2 linked regions of the Homo sapiens genome follow. The protein of the gene in region 2 purifies or fractionates together with the protein of the main gene of each other region. This does not show direct contact. Each region holds a gene or a part of one and is shown on either strand. Other genes may lie near its edges. The genes, in order: ECE1 and CNTN1.

The links.
Region 1: the proteins of CNTN1 (region 2) and ECE1 fractionate together in Homo sapiens (co-fractionation; one large-scale study listed by BioGRID). This does not show direct contact.

What each region holds. Positions count from the first base shown.
Region 1 is NC_000001.11:21,280,464-21,284,287, forward strand, and holds part of ECE1 (endothelin-converting enzyme 1), read right to left. Parts: intron 1-3,824. UniProt on the Homo sapiens protein: Converts big endothelin-1 to endothelin-1.
Region 2 is NC_000012.12:41,066,346-41,069,907, forward strand, and holds part of CNTN1 (contactin-1 isoform 1 precursor), read left to right. Parts: intron 1-3,562. UniProt on the Homo sapiens protein: Contactins mediate cell surface interactions during nervous system development.

The sequences.
Region 1 (3,824 bases), on a different chromosome or scaffold from region 2:
AAGAAGGAATGGAAGTGGAGAGGAGAGGAGGGCCTAGATCCTAAGGGGCACAGAAAGCCAGGTTAAGAGCCTGGACTTCCTCTTGAGGACTGGAGTGACATGATTAGATTTACCCTTTGGGAAGGGCAGGGTGGAGGGAGCAAGGCTTGCCAGGAAGAGGGGAAGCTGTCAGGGAAGATGAGGAGACTCAGACTCTGACCTGCAACGGCCCCACCAACAGCCTGAGGGGTGCCCCTGGTGCCGGGTCAGAGCCCTGAGGGAGTCCCACCCTGGCACTCGGGGATCTGAAGTGGGTCAGTTGAGGGAAGGGTACTGAGAAGCCACGTGGCCATGGTTAGGTATTTACTGGGCAGGAAATGACTGGGAATTGCTGCACCAGAGATGGAGGAACACAAGCACTTTCTGTGGAAAAAAAAAAACTGGGTTCCAAAACTGAGAAAAGGGGCCGGGCACGGCGGCTCATGCCTGTAGTCCCAACAGTTTAAAAGGCTGAAGTGGGAGGATCACCTGAGGTCAGGAGTTCAAGACCAGCCTGGCCAACATAGAGAAACCCCATCTCTACTAAAAAACACAAAAATTAGCCAGGAGTGGTGACAGGCGCCTGTAATCCCAGCTACTCGGGAGGCTGAGGCAGGAGAATCGCTTGAACCCGGGAGGCGGAGGTTGCAGTGAGCTGAGATTGCGCCACTGCACTCCAGCCTGGGCGACAGAGCAAGACTCCGTCTCGGAAAACAAAACAAAACAAAACAAAACAAAACAAAACTGAGCAAAGGATCTTGGGGCTTAGAGACACTTCCGTGGAGGCCCAGGAGGCTCAGACACTGAAGCAGCTGGGTCAGGCAGTGGGAGGGATGCCGCCCGCTCAAATCCCTCAAGAATCTCTTCTGAAAAAGTGAGCAATGAAAGTTTCAGACCATGAATTAAAACTTCAGGCTGTGAGGGCCTGGTGCAGAGAGAGACAGCCTGGTATGATGCTAACATGTACACTGTACTCAAATGTTTATAAAGTGCTTTTTCAGAGTAATCAGTTATCTCACACACTTTACCTTGGTCTCTGGTACTCAGAGGGGTCCCAAGGACTTGAAGCAGGGACTGCCTTGCCTAGGGACACTGACGTATGTGTCCTGCTGCCCCTAATTTGTTTCATCCTTCCTCCTTTAGGCTTCTCATGTCCCCATTATCATGGCTCAGCTCACAGGGCACAAGGAGGCCGTGAGACAGTGTTTTGTTTTGTTTTGTTTTGTTTTGTTTGAGATGGAGTCTCCCTCTGTTACCCAGGCTGGAGTGCAATGGCACGATCTCGGCTCACTGCAACCTCTGCCTCCCGGGTTCAAGCGATTCTCCTGCCTCAGTCTCCTGAGTAGCTGAGATTACAGGCATGTGCTACCACGCCCGGCTAATTTTTGTATTTTTAGTAGAGACAGGGTTTCACCATGTTGGTCAGGCTGATCTCGAACTCCTAACATCGTGATCCACCCGCCTCAGCCTCCCAAAGTGCTGGACTGCACCTGGATGAGACCTTGGTTTAAGAGGTACCCATCAGCCAGGCATGGTGGCTCATGCCTATAATCTCAACACTTTGGGAGGCTGAGGCAGGAGGATGGCTTGAGCCCAGGAGTTCAAGACCAGCCTGGGCAACACAGTCAGACCCCATCTCTTAAAAAAAATTAAATTAAATTAGCTAGGCATGGTGGCATGCACCTGTAGTCCCAGCTACTTGGGAGGCTGAGGTGGGAGGATTGCTTGAGCCCGGAAGGTCGAGGCTGCAGTAAGCCATGATTGTGCCCCTGCACTCCAGCCTGGGCAACAGAGCAAGACCCTATCTCAAAAAAGTAAAAAAGAGGCCAGGCGCAGTGGCTCATGACTGTAATCCCAGCACCTTGGGAGGGTGAGGTGGGCGGATCACCTGAGGTTGGGAGTTTGAGACCAGCCTGGCCAACATGGTGAAACCCTGTCTCTACTAAAAATATAAAAATTAGCCAGGCATGGTGGCTCATGCCTGTAATCCCAGCTACTGGGGAGGCTGAGGTGAGAGAATCACTTGAAACTGGGAGCTGGAGGCTGCAATGAGCAGAGATCACGCCACTGCACTCCAGCCTGGGTGACAGAGTGAGACGCTGTCTTGAAAAAAAAAAAAAAAAGAAAGAAAAGAAAAGAAAAGAGGTACCCCTGTGCCTGGTGCTGGCTCCAGGGAGCCAAAGGATGCAGCCACTAGGCTTGGGATGCAGGAAAACCTCACCTTAAATGTACAGGGAAATGTCATGGTGTGGGCGACAAGGAGACAGCTAAGAGCAAGGAGCAAAGCCATCTGCGGAGAGAAGGGAGAGAAGAAAGGAACAGAAGGGGAAGATGAAAGAAACAGAGGGATAGGAAAGGGAAAAAAGAACAATGGCAGCAAATAAATACTTGAGTGCTAAGGGCCTGGGATCATATTAATTCTATTTTGATAGTGCAATTCTATCTTCACAACATTATTTTTTTTTTTTTTTTTTTTTTGAGACGGAGTCTTGCTTTCTCACCCAGGCTGGAGTGCAGTGCCGCCATCTCGGCTCATTGCAACCTTGGCCTCCCGGGTTCAAGAGATTCTCCTGCCTCAGCCTCCCAAGTAGCTGGGACTACAGGCACATGCCACCACACCTGGCTAATTTTTTGTATTTTTAGTAGAGATGGGGTTTCACCGTGTTAGCCAGGATGGTCTCAATCAATCTCCTGACCTCGTGATCCACCCGCCTTGGCCTCCCAAAATGCTGGAATTATAGGCGTGAGCCACAGCGCCCGGCCCATAACATTCCTTTTTTTGAATTTTTTTTAAATTTTTTTTTTTTGAGACAGAGTCTCACTGTGTCGCCCAGGCTGGAGTGCAGTGGAGAGGTCTCTGTTCACTGCAACCTCTGTCTCCCGAGTTCAAGCAATTCTCCTGCCTCAGCGTCCCGAGTAGCTGGGATTACAGGTGTCCGCCACCACGCCGGGCTAATTTTTGTATTTTTAGTAGAGACAGGGTTTCACCATGTTGGCCAGGCTGGTCTCAAACTCCCGACCTCAGGTGATCTGCCCGCCTCAGCTTCCCAAAGTGCTGGGATTACAGGCGTGAACCACTGCACCCAGCCTATCTTCACAACATTCCTAAGAGTAGGTATTAGCGTTAGCTCCAGAAGAAACCCAGGAAGTCGGGGCATGAAGGCAAGGAGAGAGGAGAGAGAACAGTGAGGCAACCCACGTCTCCAGGACTGGCAGCCGCAGACCTACCACAGGAAGTGGAGCTGACCCTCACTGTTTGATGCAAAGTGCTGAATCTAAACAGATGGTGTTCACTGCAAAATTAAATTAAAATTAAGCCAGAATTGAATTAAAAATTCATAGTTCCAGGCAAGAATGGCAAATGGAGTTTGAAAATGGAGTTTTTAACCTTTGTCTTGTTCTTTGCTTGACTTGTACTATCGGCTACGGGCCTCATGGTTTCTGGATAAGCCTTGTCTCTAAAGGCAGAACGAATCCAGATGCCTCACCCTGGGGCAGGAGAAGTCACCTAGAGGTACTAGGCCAGGATCAGGAGGCCTCTCCAGGGCAGGGTGGCCAATTCCTGGGTGCAATGGAAAGGGCTGGGCCGTGAGTCAGGGCACCGATCTGCTTCCAATGGCCGCTGGCCTCGGCTGAGTCTCTTCTTTGCATCCCTGTCGCACCTGCCCAGCCTCCTTCATGGGACTGTGGAGGGGATCCGTGAGATGAGGTCACAGCATGGGGAGATGTGACTGGTTTCTTACGTTTCTTTTGGAAATGAGGTCCCGTCAAGCATGGGAGACTGGCCTAAGCAGCTTGGAGGGTAG
Region 2 (3,562 bases):
ACTGAAGGTCACAGTGGTTTCCTCTAACCATCTTCTTCCTTAGACCCCCTGTGCTCTGTAATAAGAAAAAATTCAGGGCCTACAATGGAGGCATAACTCAATCATTTAACATTATAGGTTGAGTACTTTCTATGCACTAGGCTTGGTATTAGTCAACACAGCTAAAACATAATTTGGATATCATCTCTGTCTTGAAGTTGTTCATAATATAGAGATATTAGCAGTTGTGGTCACAAAATGTGACACCACAAAGAGAAAATTCTAAATGTTATGGCATCGTCAGCAATAGGCAAGCAGTAGAAACAAAGACTGCATCACAGTGTCCAGATTGAAGAATCAGAAAGGAAGTTTGTATTAAAAACCAAGTAGAGCAGTTTTCTACTTATCAGAAAGCCTGCAGTACTGCTCAACTTTTAATTGAAATGTCTGTTTTCAGCATCACTCTCCATATAGCGGGAATTCTCCCTGAAGGAAGTATGAAATCAAAGTTTAGATTTAAAAAAAAATCAAGAATTCCCATGGAAGAGATATAGTACTCCAAATTGGTTTTACATTTCTTCTGATAGAGAAAAATTATTCACAAGATCAATGATTTGTTCAGGTTTAACATTCATCAGCTATGTGAAAAGCAAAATATGTGTTTACTATATAACACATAAGTACCAGAATTATGATTGATAGCAGTATTCTGATATATATGTTGTTAGATTCAAAACCAATATATATTGAAAAACTCCTCAAGAATATATGTCATTTAAAATGACATTAGATAGTACTTCAATTCGGTCTCTAATTTCTGTTTGGAATGTGGGATAGAAGTAAAGATGAAGACCAAAATTACATAAGCTTGAGCCATTAGAGAAATTAAATATAACACACGTAAACATGGAGAGTTTATTTCAAATATCCTGATGTCAAAGCCACAAATTATGAAATTGTATTTGGTTTTCATACTAGTACCAAAACATCAAGATGGCATCCACAATTCACTAAATTTCTTTCGAGCAGCCACAGTTTGTACTTTGCCAACCCACATATTCAGCCAAGTACATAAACATGTCCCCATGATAGATGTAATTTGTGGTCAAAAGACAGAGCATTGTGGAGACCCTGCAGTCATCCTCAGACAAAAAAGGCTTCAGAATGATGATTTCCAATTCCTATCACAAGAACAAAAAACCAAACACCGCATATTCTCACTCATAGGTGGGAATTGAACAATGAGATCACATGGACACAGGAAGGGGAATATCACACTCTGGGGACTGTGGTGGGGTGGGGGAGGGGGGAGGGATAGCATTGGGAGATATACCTAATGCTAGATGACGAGTTAGTGGGTGCAGCGCACCAGCATGGCACATGTATACATATGTAACTAACCTGCACAATGTGCACATGTACCCTAAAACTTAAAGTATAATAAAAAAAAAAAGGCTTCAGGATGGATCATTTACACTGGGTCAAACATTGACGTTTAAAGGTTTTACTGTGTGATTGAGGTTTATTATTGGGCATCTTATCAGAATAAAATAATGTGTGGTCTGTGGCATATTTTAAAAAATTTGTAGAAAAGTAGAAGATAAAAAAAATTACAAGAATACAAAGATCTCTTTGAAACAGTTTATGTGTTAGCTTTTTTCCATATGACATTTATTATTTTCCTTCTGTGCCCTTGCCTTGATACATTAAGTGCAGAGCGCAGTTTCCTTCTGCATTTCTAAAACCAGTCCCTTGCTAAAGCTACCTGCAAGAACACGGCAGAGAGGTCAAAAGTGCATGGCCTTTGCAGCTGGACAAATTTGAATTCTAATCCCTTCTCTGCCCTCTAGTGACTATTGGACTTGAGCAACTCATTTTACCTGACTCAGTTACAAAATATATAAAATTAGGGTAAAAGACCTACCATTGTAGGTTGTTGTAGTCATGTCATAATCTACATAATGAGCCAACATAGTCTTGTAGCTGGCTGTAGGGCAGTAAGTAGCATCTCTCAAAGTAATGATAAGTTTACTATTGTTATTGATAGTGTCCTTAGGAGCTCTGCTACTTGAGGGCTGTTTATATTCCCCTTGTTATCTGCCCTCACCTTTTGACCCTCACTTTCCTGCTCATTTCTAAGAACTACTTTATCTGTATCCGATAAAGCTTTCCCTCTTATGTTTCCAGGCAGCTCCAAAAGCCCCAGGCAGGGCAATGTTGAAGACAAGCAAGCAGACAGACACTATTATCTTCCACCTTATAGGGAACATGAATGTGCTTTTAATGACCAGAGATTCAGGAGAAATGCACTAAATCTCCCTGAATATAAAAGGACCATGCCAAAGAATGAGCTGTTTATGGTCACTTTTAATGTGATAGATAATAATAATTTATTTGGTGGTTTCAAATTTAGAGAGTAAACTTCCAAAAATTAATGAAAACTGTTATATTAGTAAGCCATTGACTAAATTTTTTAGGTCTTCACTCATTCTAGCAGCATGTTCATTGAAGATAGTGCCAGCCAGGCATGGTGGCTTATGCCTGTAATCCCAGCACTTTGGGAGACTGAGGCAGGAGGATCACATGGGCCCAGGAGTTTGAGGCTGCAGTCAGCTATGACTGAACCACTGCACTCCAGCCTGAGCAATAGAACAAGACCCTGTATCTTAAAAAATAATAATTAATTTATTTAAAAAGAAGATAGTGCCTAATAGTTGTGGACATTGGGAAGAAAGAGTATGACTTTTTGGTCCTACTTTACAATAGTTTCTCAAAAATTCTCATGTCGGCAGGACACGGACCCATAAACTTACTTGACTACAGGAGTAGCCCTTCTAAGTGTCACCCAAGACGTAAATTAAGTCCATAGCATATTATAATACATCATTTCAATTTTTAATTCACAGTGTAATATCTCAGGGCAATTGTTCTTTAGATAAAAATTGAATGAGATTATTTAATATCAGAAATACATTACTTAAGTCATTCTGTATAAATGTATAAATGTCTTAAAACCATTGGGATGTGAAATTATGCAAGATTTACCTAGCATACCTATGTTGTCATTGTTTCAGGAAAAATTATTAGTATTTTTACTGTATCTCTTTTTTTACATTTTATTATTATTATACTTTAAGTTTTAGGGTACATGTGCACAATGTGCAGGTTTGTTACATATGTATACAAGTGCCATGTTGGTGTGCTGCACCCATTAACTCGTCATTTAGCATTAGGTATATCTCCTAATGCTATCCCTCCCCACTCCCCCCACCCCACAACTTTATCTTATTTTTAAAACTTACTTTTTTAATGCATGTATATATGTTTCTTGACATTTTGCCTTCTGGTAGGAATTTGGGACTGCTGGATCATAGGGACAGCATACACATTTGTGATCATATTATTTTAAATGATTAATCATGTTGTGTAAACAGTTCACATGGTCTCACACAGAAAATCTTTGATCAAAAGCTTTTGTTTTTCTTAAATCATGTAAGAATAAGAGATTCTGTTTTGTGAAAGGACCCATTTGTTTTCCAGGGCTATGCAATCTCGCCTTAGCTGAAGCAGACTAAATGAGCAA